Linked DNA regions of Homo sapiens: all the other regions are reported to be linked to region 1. Evidence: microRNA targets listed by miRTarBase, many of them from high-throughput screens and not tested one by one. Region 1 holds a microRNA gene; each other region holds the end of a gene's coding sequence.

What was found. Region 1 holds the annotated microRNA hsa-miR-7849-3p (GACAAUUGUUGAUCUUGGGCCU, at 1,955-1,976, shown strand). A microRNA usually pairs through its seed, bases 2 to 8, with sites in the 3' UTR of a target mRNA and lowers its output. Matches are read on the target gene's strand: a 7mer-m8 pairs with bases 2 to 8, a 7mer-A1 pairs with bases 2 to 7 and ends in A, and an 8mer does both.
Region 2: the mRNA of ACSS3 is a reported target of hsa-miR-7849-3p. Seed matches in the 3' UTR shown: 7mer-A1 at 2,894-2,900, 7mer-A1 at 2,732-2,738, 7mer-A1 at 1,561-1,567 and 7mer-A1 at 250-256.
Region 3: the mRNA of DIPK1C is a reported target of hsa-miR-7849-3p. Seed matches in the 3' UTR shown: 8mer at 892-899.

The regions. Positions count from the first base shown.
Region 1 is chr4:146,406,692-146,409,691 of GRCh38, forward strand. It overlaps MIR7849 (microRNA 7849), which reads left to right and starts at 1,892; the gene lies at 1,892-1,997. The region is part of intron 5 of SLC10A7 (solute carrier family 10 member 7); the gene reads right to left.
Region 2 is chr12:81,254,585-81,257,938 of GRCh38, reverse strand. It overlaps ACSS3 (acyl-CoA synthetase short chain family member 3), which reads right to left. Exons shown (of 16, transcript NM_024560.4): 16 at 1-3,082. The coding sequence ends at 3,017. Among named protein-coding and RNA genes, the nearest start is that of PPFIA2-AS1, 23 kb to the left of the region's middle.
Region 3 is chr18:74,433,958-74,437,311 of GRCh38, forward strand. DIPK1C (divergent protein kinase domain 1C) reads right to left here. Exons shown (of 4, transcript NM_001044369.3): 4 at 818-2,762. The coding sequence ends at 2,544. Among named protein-coding and RNA genes, the nearest start is that of DIPK1C, 22 kb to the right of the region's middle.

The sequences.
Region 1 (3,000 bases):
ATTGTGCGTGGCCAGGCGCAGTGGCTCACTTCTGTGATCCCAGCACTTTAGGAGGCAGAGGCGGGAGGATCACCTAAGGTCAGGAGTTTGAGACCGGGCTGGCCAACATGGTGAAACCCCATCTCTACTAAAAATACAAAAATTAGCTGGGCGTGGTGGTGGGTGCCTGTAATCCCAGCTACTTGGGAGGCTGAGGCAGGAGAATCACTTGAATCAGGGAGGTGGAGGTTGCAGTGAGCTGAGATCACACCACTGCACTCCAGCCTGGGCAACAGAGTGAGACTACATCTGAAAAAACAAAACAAACAACAACAACAACAAAAAAGTGTTTACTGTGTGATTCTGGTCTCTCATATATAAACCTGACTTATTTTAGTGATGGGATCTTTCCTACCCCTCACTTTATCTTTTCAGAGTCCCAGGATATCTCATTGTACATAGAAGTCAAGCTATGGCAAGTGAGGCTGAAAGTATACCTGAGAAAAGTCAACTTTCCAACTCTAATCCTCTTTCACAATATTTAAGCAGTTTTATTGAGGTATAATTGATATACAAATAACTGCATATATTTAATGTGTACAATTTTATGAGTTTGAACATTGAAAACACCCATGATACCATCACCACAATCAAGTTAACGGACACATGCAATATTTCTCAGTGTTTCCTTGTATCCCATTGTTGCTCTTTGTAATAAGAACATGTAACATGAGATCTACGCTCTTTACAAATTCTGAAGTACACAATACTGTATTATCAAGCATAGGCATTATGTTGTACAAAAGATTTCTAGAACTTTAGCAGATAATTAAAACTTTATATACACTGAACAACCATTTCCCCCACATTCCAGAAGTTTCATTATTAAAGGGGGAAAAGGTGACTTCTGAGAGTAACAAATACGTATTTATTCAAATCCAGATACAGCATATTCTAAAATTGAAGATAATCTTTAAACAAACAGCTACTGTGCCAGACTATTAACTGCCTACTTTATAGCCATTCCCACCCTCTTATATGTTAACAGAACCCTGTTTTCTTTGGGACAACAATATGCCCAATCTAGGATATGACTCACTGTTAGTCTAGTTAGTCTAAACCAGTCACATTTCCAAGTAATATGTGCCTCAAATACATGACAGATAGCCGAGATATTGATTCCCCTTAACTCTCAGGGCAGAAGGACTGGGCCTAGATTAGCAGAAGCATTCTGTTCACCCTCAGGATGTACAACAAATGTTATCATTTCCTACACGTGCCATAAAGGGAAAAACGTCAGTCAGGAAGCACGTTTCTAAGCCAAATTCTGTTCCCTTGGATAGATACTCAATTTCTCTCCTCTCCTTACAGCTAGCAGTAATCCAGTTCTGGCCAATGCAACATTAGGGAAAGTCAGCTGAGAGCCTCCTGGAAATGCTTGTTCTAACATATAAAAGGACAGAAATAACAGGATAGCATATCAGCGGTGCCTTTTCCCTTTCTTCCTACCTCGAACAAAAATACAATGCCTAAAACCTCAACAGCCATCTCACTACCATGAAGTAACAAAGCATGAGGATAAAAGACCAACAGCTAGCCAGGCACGGTGGCTCACAGCTATGATCTTAGCATTTTGGGAGGATGAGGCAGGCAGATTGCCTGAGCTCAGGAGTTTGAGACCACCCTGGGGGCAACATGGTGAAACTCTGTCTCTACTAAAATACAAAAAATTAGCTGGGCGTGGTGGTGCACACCTATAGTCCCGGCTACTTGGGAGGGTGAGACACAAGAACTGCTTGAACCCTGGAGTGACAGAGCAAGACTGTGTCTCAAAAAACAAAACAAAACAAAACAAAACAAAAAAAATACCAACAGCTAAGAATAATGGAGCAGAGAGATGGAAAGAGCTTGAGACTTTATATTGTTGAACATCAGACTCAAGGCCAACAACTGACTACTTCGAAAATGGGAAGTAGACAATTGTTGATCTTGGGCCTGATGTTCAACAATATAAAGTTGACTGGTGGACACTAATGGAGGGAATATTTTAAGTCAATTTTTTTTCTCTGAAGCATCCTTTAATTCTCAGCTTTGTAGGAATATCAACCCTCTTGTTCTCAGATTATCTAATGCTTTATTATCTATTAATATCTATACCACTTTAAGCCTTAGTGGGGTGACATCAGCTTTAATGTTAATCATTTCTATTGCATTCTTCATGGCTCAGAATTTCAGCCTCCTAGAAATTTCAACATATTATGGCAGTACTGGTTGTTAATCCAGCAGCTAAGTGGAAATTCCAAGAGGCATAGTAAATTCACACATTCAAGGGTTATAGTTATTAAAAAACAAAAACTCTGAACCGAAAATGGGGGAACAAATATATTTCAGATATTCTGAAAGGTAATTTAACTTTGTTTGCAATATATAGGAAACATAGAAGGAGAAATTTTTTAATGGGTATGTATAGGCAAAGGCTTGGGAATACTTAGGTACTCTCAAGCTATCTATAAACATAGAAGTCAAAAACATCAACCAGTGTTTCTCAGTAAATAAAAAGCACACTCCAAAAAAAATGCAACTTTGGAAATCTCTTCTAAAAAGTAAGTGCAATAACACTTTTGCTTCCAAATAGAAAAAAAATGCTATTGAATATGGCACATCAAAAAAAAAAAAAGCCACACTGTCAAACTCAAAAAAGTACATATTGTATGATTCAATGTATAGGGTGTTCTGGAAAAGGCAAAACTAAAGGGATAAAAAAACAGATCAGTGGTTGCCAAGGGCTGGGAGGGAGGGGGATAGAGGCATTGCCTACAAAAGGGCACAGGGAAACTTTGGGGGTGATGGAATGTTCTACATCTTGATTATAGTGGTCATTATATATTAAACAATTATCAAAACTTACAGAACTGTATACTAAAAAAGGATGAATTTTACTCTATGTAAATTATACCTTAATTTTAAAATCGGGGAATAGCACATCTGTGAACTGATAAGAACCAAGAGTTATTTTATGCT
Region 2 (3,354 bases), not on the chromosome of region 1:
CAATTTCTTTCTTTTAAAGATCAAGTTAGAAAGATTAATCATCTATAATAGACACTAACATATAGTGATGCAAAAGATCCAGGTATTTCCCTCAAAAAAGAAGCATAAAATATGTTTTAATTTATAAGAAAGATAACTTCTACTAGATTCTAAAATCCATTTAATGGATTAAGCTCAGAGTCTCAACACGTTACTTTTGATCATCAACATTATAAATTTTCACATTTTTAATGTTCAGGACCTTTCAAATACAATTTTATATAAACAAAACTGGTTTTTAAATGTAGGATAGGTCTCATTTAAATATGTTTAATATATTTTCACAAGCAAAGTAATTCAATGAATTGGAAAATACTATAACTTCTGAAAGCACTTTATATTTTCATTTTCCAATAACTTAACAGTAAGAAATCCTATGAAAATACCAAACGAAGACCTCACAGAATTTATTCTAGCAAGTTTAAGTATGTCTGCATTTTTTAGTAATATTATATTGTTGTTTTTAAAGATACATTTAATTCAGAATCTTTAAAGTACTATCTAGCAAAAGTGATTTATGGTTAGTAGTAAAATAGAATTTTTTCCTCCCAAATTTTAAGCAGTCTGATGATTCAGGTATATCTTTCTTGCCCTATTTTTTCATCACATAAAAGTAACAACATTCTTTGATCTTGCAATTCCCCAGTGAGACACAGGAAATAGCCACTTCCCCAGTCTCCAGCACTGTTTTCCATTCCCATCCTAGTGGAAAATAACCCAAGTCTGCTTGCTGAGATGTCGCTTCAGATTTGATTACCAGAAAAAATGTGCAAGAGGACCAAAGATGCAACCTTTACCTAATTATTGGATCTGCCTGAGCTTAAACCTTGCAAATGAACAATGATACACATTCAGGTAAATAATTTGCCATTTCAAATTAACTGACTCTTATTTGAAAAAAAATAAGGAAACACATTCTACTCCTAAGACATTAAAATGAGTTATTAATGAAGACCACAGTTGTGACAATGGATAAAACGTACCAATGAAAGAGGCAACTCAAGGATCCCAACAGCTTCAAATGAGAGAGTGTCTATGTAGCTGGTTTAATTCAGTCTACTAACATAATTAAAAGGAAAAAGTAGATGAATATATTTTTCCAGGTGTAACAATCAAGAAGGCAATTTAAGTAAATAGGAATTTACTTTGAGAAGCCATTTATTTTGCAGTCTTCAGTCCAAAAAAAGTCAACATTTTCAGAATTTTTTTATATAAGTTGTAGGTCATTTTTATAACAATAAACTTTCTATTATCTATTTATCTCTCACATACATTTCATGTATCCTGAGTATTATGTTACAACAATCTGCTCTTGATAGTAATGTTCCTGATAGATTAAAAGATTGAGAAATACTTGAAGAACGATCAAAGATACAATGAGCATGGTATACTTTTGGGTTAAAATGTATTCTTTGATAACTGATGTCATATAGATCCCTAAGTAAATCAAATATTTAATTTCCTACATCTGTCTACCTTAGTTAACTGGCCCATTCCTATAAGCTTAACAAAAACTCACTTTACAATTATTTAAAAAAAACATTTAAGAGATTTTTAGAAGTTAAATGGAAAGATACTTTTGGACATTACAATATTTTTAATGAGTTATTATTTTAAAATTAGAGATTTCACATAAAAACCAGGATTCTTTGTTTTCTCTTTAAAAAAACAGAGGCTCTTGCAACAGGAGACCTGCCTCCTTTTTGGGCCATATTCTGCTGGGTCCGCTGCTCCTTGAGGTATAGCAGGTGATCTGCAGTCTTCACCATTTTCTACTGTCCTTTGTCCCTCAAACCTAGTGGCTTAAGTTCACTTCAAAATCACCTAGACATTACACTACCTGCCTAGAAACCTTCTTGTCTTTAACCTAATGTGAAAACCTTGATGTTTCTCTCTTAAGAGTTTTCCTTGCCACCCTACCCCATTTGTACATCGATTCCTTGTTTCCACAGGAATCTGGAATCATTTGGATAAACATAGTCAACTAAGAACCTGAGACATGAAGAGGGGCTCCCAGGAGCCCTCATCTCCATGAAGAGATTGGACTAAATGATCTCTTTGTTCTCCGCCAGGCATGTGGTTTTTTTGTTGTTTTTGTTGTTTTGAGATGGAGTCTTACTCTGTCACCCAGGCTGGAGTACAGTGGGGGAACTTGGCTCACTGCAACCTCTGCCTCTTGTATTCAAGTGATTCTCCTTGCCTCAGCCTCCCGCCACCACGCCTGGCTTATTTTTGTATTTTCAGTAGCTACAGGGTTTCACCATGTTGGCCAGGCTCGTCTCAAACTGCTGACCTCAAGTGATCCGCCTGCCTCAGCCTCCCAAAGTGCTCGGATTACATGCTGAACCAGGTCAGACATGTGGTTTTCCTTGCCTAAGTAACAAAAGACCTGAAGGTATAGCTATAACCCCGGTGTTCTGCTTTCCCTCAGAAAATGTATAGAAAAGCCCTCCTACCTAGATAATAATTTCATCTGTCTAGATGATTACCTAAACTTCCCATTTCATCTATTTTATTTAAAACAATGTGAGCATCTAAAGAATACTAGAAAATATCTAAAATTTCTACAAGAAAAATTTTAATTATTTTCTGACTTTAAGTTTTAGATTTTGGATCAAAACTACAGATTCTTGGTTTCAGGAAGTGGCTCTATATTAGTGTTGCTTTCAATTAAAGTGTTCTTCTTGGGAGGTACAATTTTAAAAATAATACACTAGATACGTTTTTCCTAAAGCAGTAGATGACATTCAATAAGCCATGTTATAGATAACTAATAACAATGCTAACAGGGTCAAACCAAAAAAAAGGCACAGGTCTTTCACATGTTTTCATTAGATTTGTTTAGGCCAAGTTTTACAATTCACATTTCATTTTGCAAGTAATTTCTACTGAAATATTTATTTCTGAGAAACAACTCAAATAATTTAATTTCAATTAAGAAATTAAATCAACTCAAAATAGGAATAAGACAAACTCATTATGCTTGCTTCAGCATTTCTTCTACGTGGCCAAAAATGCTGGGGTCTTCAATTGTAGAAGTTATCTGGAAAAAAAATTAGGGTCAGGTGAATACTCTTCCTTGAATTTCTTCTACTCTTTCTATAATTAAACAATTATATGCAATGTTGTTTTCCCCATTGTCTTGTAATATTCATATGGAAAGTTTAAAAATAGGGAACTTTGAACCTAATATATTAATACTCATCTGTAGCTTTCCAGAGTAAAAAAATAAACAGTTCAGTTAGCAAAACTATTGGACCTAGATGGTATTTTCTCTAGAGTTGGAGTTCCTCTTAAGAGTCTTCTATATATTTC
Region 3 (3,354 bases), not on the chromosome of region 1:
CTGAGAGTGTTCTGTCTACTATGTGTTATTACAACAAAACATAGAAATCATTTAGGGAGACATTTTCCTCTACGAGTGCGGTTGTTGCTCAATTAGATCAGCCAGAAAAAAACCGATTTGTCATATTCAAAATACTAAATATTGATATACACAGTGTTAATTTATTATGTTATATAAAAGCATTGATTTGCAAGGTTTCAAAATTAAAAACAAAACTGAGCTTCACCACAATTTGAGAGCCACTGCTCTAATGGGAATTCCCAGGCAGGGATGGAAAAGGGTGTGTGTGTGTGTGTGTGTGTGTGTAACTGTGTAGCCAAACATAAAGGGAAGAGATAAAACAGCTCCCTTTCAGCAATAAAACCACAATTGTGTTGGATAATTATATATTGCACAGTCTCCATCGTAAACAAAAACAATTTGTTTCCATTTTGGTTGAAATGAAAACTAACTATTTCTCTTTTCCAGGCTGGCTTTGCTGCCTGGTCAGTGAGCTCAGGCCACTAATGAATGGCTGGCATCCCAGCGTCTACCCACAAAAGACCCACTCTGACCTCCCAGAGCGAAACCCCACTGTTTAAAGGGCACAGAGGGCAAAGCCCTGGTGGCTTCCCTCCTTCCCCCCCTCCATCTCACACCCGTCTTCCTGTAAACCTTTTTGCTTGTAGAGAACCTGCCTAGAAGGTGAGCATGGCCCAAAGTATGCCCCGACCACCACAGAAAGGCATTGCACCCAGCGCAGCTCTGGGGAAAATCGGAGCCTCCACCCAATAGCCCGAAGCCCGCCCTTTCCTTTGGAATCCACTAGTCCTAGGCCTGGCCGTTGAACTTTGGTTTTAATTTGCTCGTGCCACAGGGTGACTGACATGGGTTTTTTCCTTCTTGCTAGAATACAATTGCAAAGCGAGTCTTCATGTCCATGATGAGGAGGCCCTCTATGGAACTCTGTGTCATTTGGAAGATCCCCAGTGGTGATGGGTAAGAATAACAGCTGGCAGTGGGCCTTCCAACAGGTCTTTGGGGAAGGCAGAATTTAGAGCTGGGGGCCTCTGATCATGCTAGTCCCTCACACACCATTTCTCAGCGTGCCCTGAAGGGCAGAGTCAGTAAATGTGACCCCAAAGTCTGGAAGAAGGCATTCCCGTTTCTCTGGTTTAGAAAGGGGCTGCAGGCCAAGATAAGAGACCATTTGGAATGTGTCAGTTTGTGACTTTCACAACGTCCGATTAATTTGTCTTCTTTAATGTGTAAACTGCCAACATGACTTCCTGATTCTCTCATCTTTCTCGATTTCCCTTTTCATGGGATTTCTGAAAAGGGGTGACCCGTTGGTTTGTTGAGCACTCGTGGGTCACAGTTATGGGTAGAAACCAGGTCCCTTTAAGTGAAAGCTCACTGGCTTCACCTGGCCTGTCCCCCTGCCTGTATTTTGCTGGAAAAGCCTCCTTGGGATCACCACTGATGAGCGTATCATGCCACCATAGGATTTGATGCCTATCACTTGGTCTTCAATCCATCAAAAGAAAGGTGCTGGTCTCTGGTCCTGCCTGGAGTCAATGCAGACCTCAGCATTTGCTCTACTTTAAATTTTCTCTGAAGGTGAAGACAATGCTGCATCAAGCCAACCTACAAGTCCCTGCCCAGGGGAAGGTGTATTGCAATACGAGGCGCCCTAAAACCCATCCATAACCTTGGTGGATTCCACAAAATGAAAAATACTATAAGCTGCCGTTACACACGCTCTCCAATGCAAATTCCCTTCCCTAAAGATGCAGCTTATTTTCTTTTTATTGTATTTAATTCCGAAAGAATGGTCACACTTCTTTGCTAGGTAGGCAAGATGTTCCGGAGGACACACTAGAGAAAGCACCACTCCCCACCCTAACCCACATCCCCAACACACTCACCTGCCCACACTCACACAATCACATACACATGCCCACACTTATATACACATGCTGACACCCGTGCACTCATGTGCACACACTCATTCACACTCATACATATTCACACTCAGGCATACTCATACTCCTCATGAGCACACCACACTCACCTGTGCACACTCACCTGTGCACACTCACACACATGCAGACACTCATGGGCACACTCACACATGCTCACATGCTCATTTGCACCCAGACACAGGCATACACATCATTTGTATGCACACACGCACACTTTTTAACGTGGTAACGATTTACAGGAAAGAACAGCTGGAACTCGTGCTGGGATAACCAGGTACAAGTGCTCTCTGCAGAGAATAAGTGCACACAGGTTGGTGTCTTCTGACCGAGAGCCCTCCTGAAGGGAGGTCTGTACCTCCTCCCTCATCTCATTTTACACAAGGCGACAGGTCAGAGGCCAGGGTGGGACGAGAGCGAGGGAGCACTGTCTCTGGCAGCAGCACTTGCCACTCCACAATGTGGAGACCAGAACGGCACCCCAGAGAGCACAGGGGAAATGGCTCATCTTTAAAACAATGGCAGAAGAAATCCAGCCAAGGTCACTTTTCCTGTGTGAGCATGTTTAAGGCCAGAGAGTGGCTACTTCTCTGCCTCCTGCAGCTCCCTCAGTGTGGCTTGGAGGAGTTGGCGAAGCTTCCAGAACACGCTGGAGGCTGCTCTCCGGGTGTTCCCACTGGGGACCCCAGGGTCTGCACATTCCTGCACCGCCTCCTGTAACTGCAGCTGAAGCTGGAAAGAGACCGCAGAGCTCTTGAGAGGCGCGGAAAACCAATGGCGAAATATTTTGTCACAGATGACCTGAGGGAAAGAAGGGTGGACAGTTAATTTAGGGCAGCAAATCCTCCTAAAAGCTTCCCAAGCCCAGGATTGGTTCTGAAACAGATTTCAGCTTCTCTCCCACCCCCACCCCCGTCCTTCAGGGAGCACACTCCAGAGACCATCCGATTTGGAAACATGCCTTCACTTCTGCCCCTTAAACCCTTCAGCACCATGAACAAAAGACGCCTCCGAGAGGAGAAGCCAACATCTGTGTGAGGCAGAAACTTCCCTTTCCAGCCCCCTAGCAGATGGACAAAGTTCTGGGTGACACTGTAAAAGGACTGGACACATTTCTAGGGAGGAAGGGAAGCAGAAGTCACAGACAGTCACTGCTGCAGAAGGAGTTGGTCCTTTGCAGGCCTGAGGGAGGCCGGCTTTGCTGTTACCACCTGGAGATGAGGTTTCTTATCCACAAGCTGGTCCTAGTGACAACAATGACCATCTGACCGGGCTGTCCAGAGGGCCAAATGGTGCGTGAGGGAGAAGTGTGTGAACTTGTATGGCTGCCTGTATAGCACTTTAAGGCTCATGAAACAAAGGCATATTTGACAGAAAAGACTGCAGGCATAAG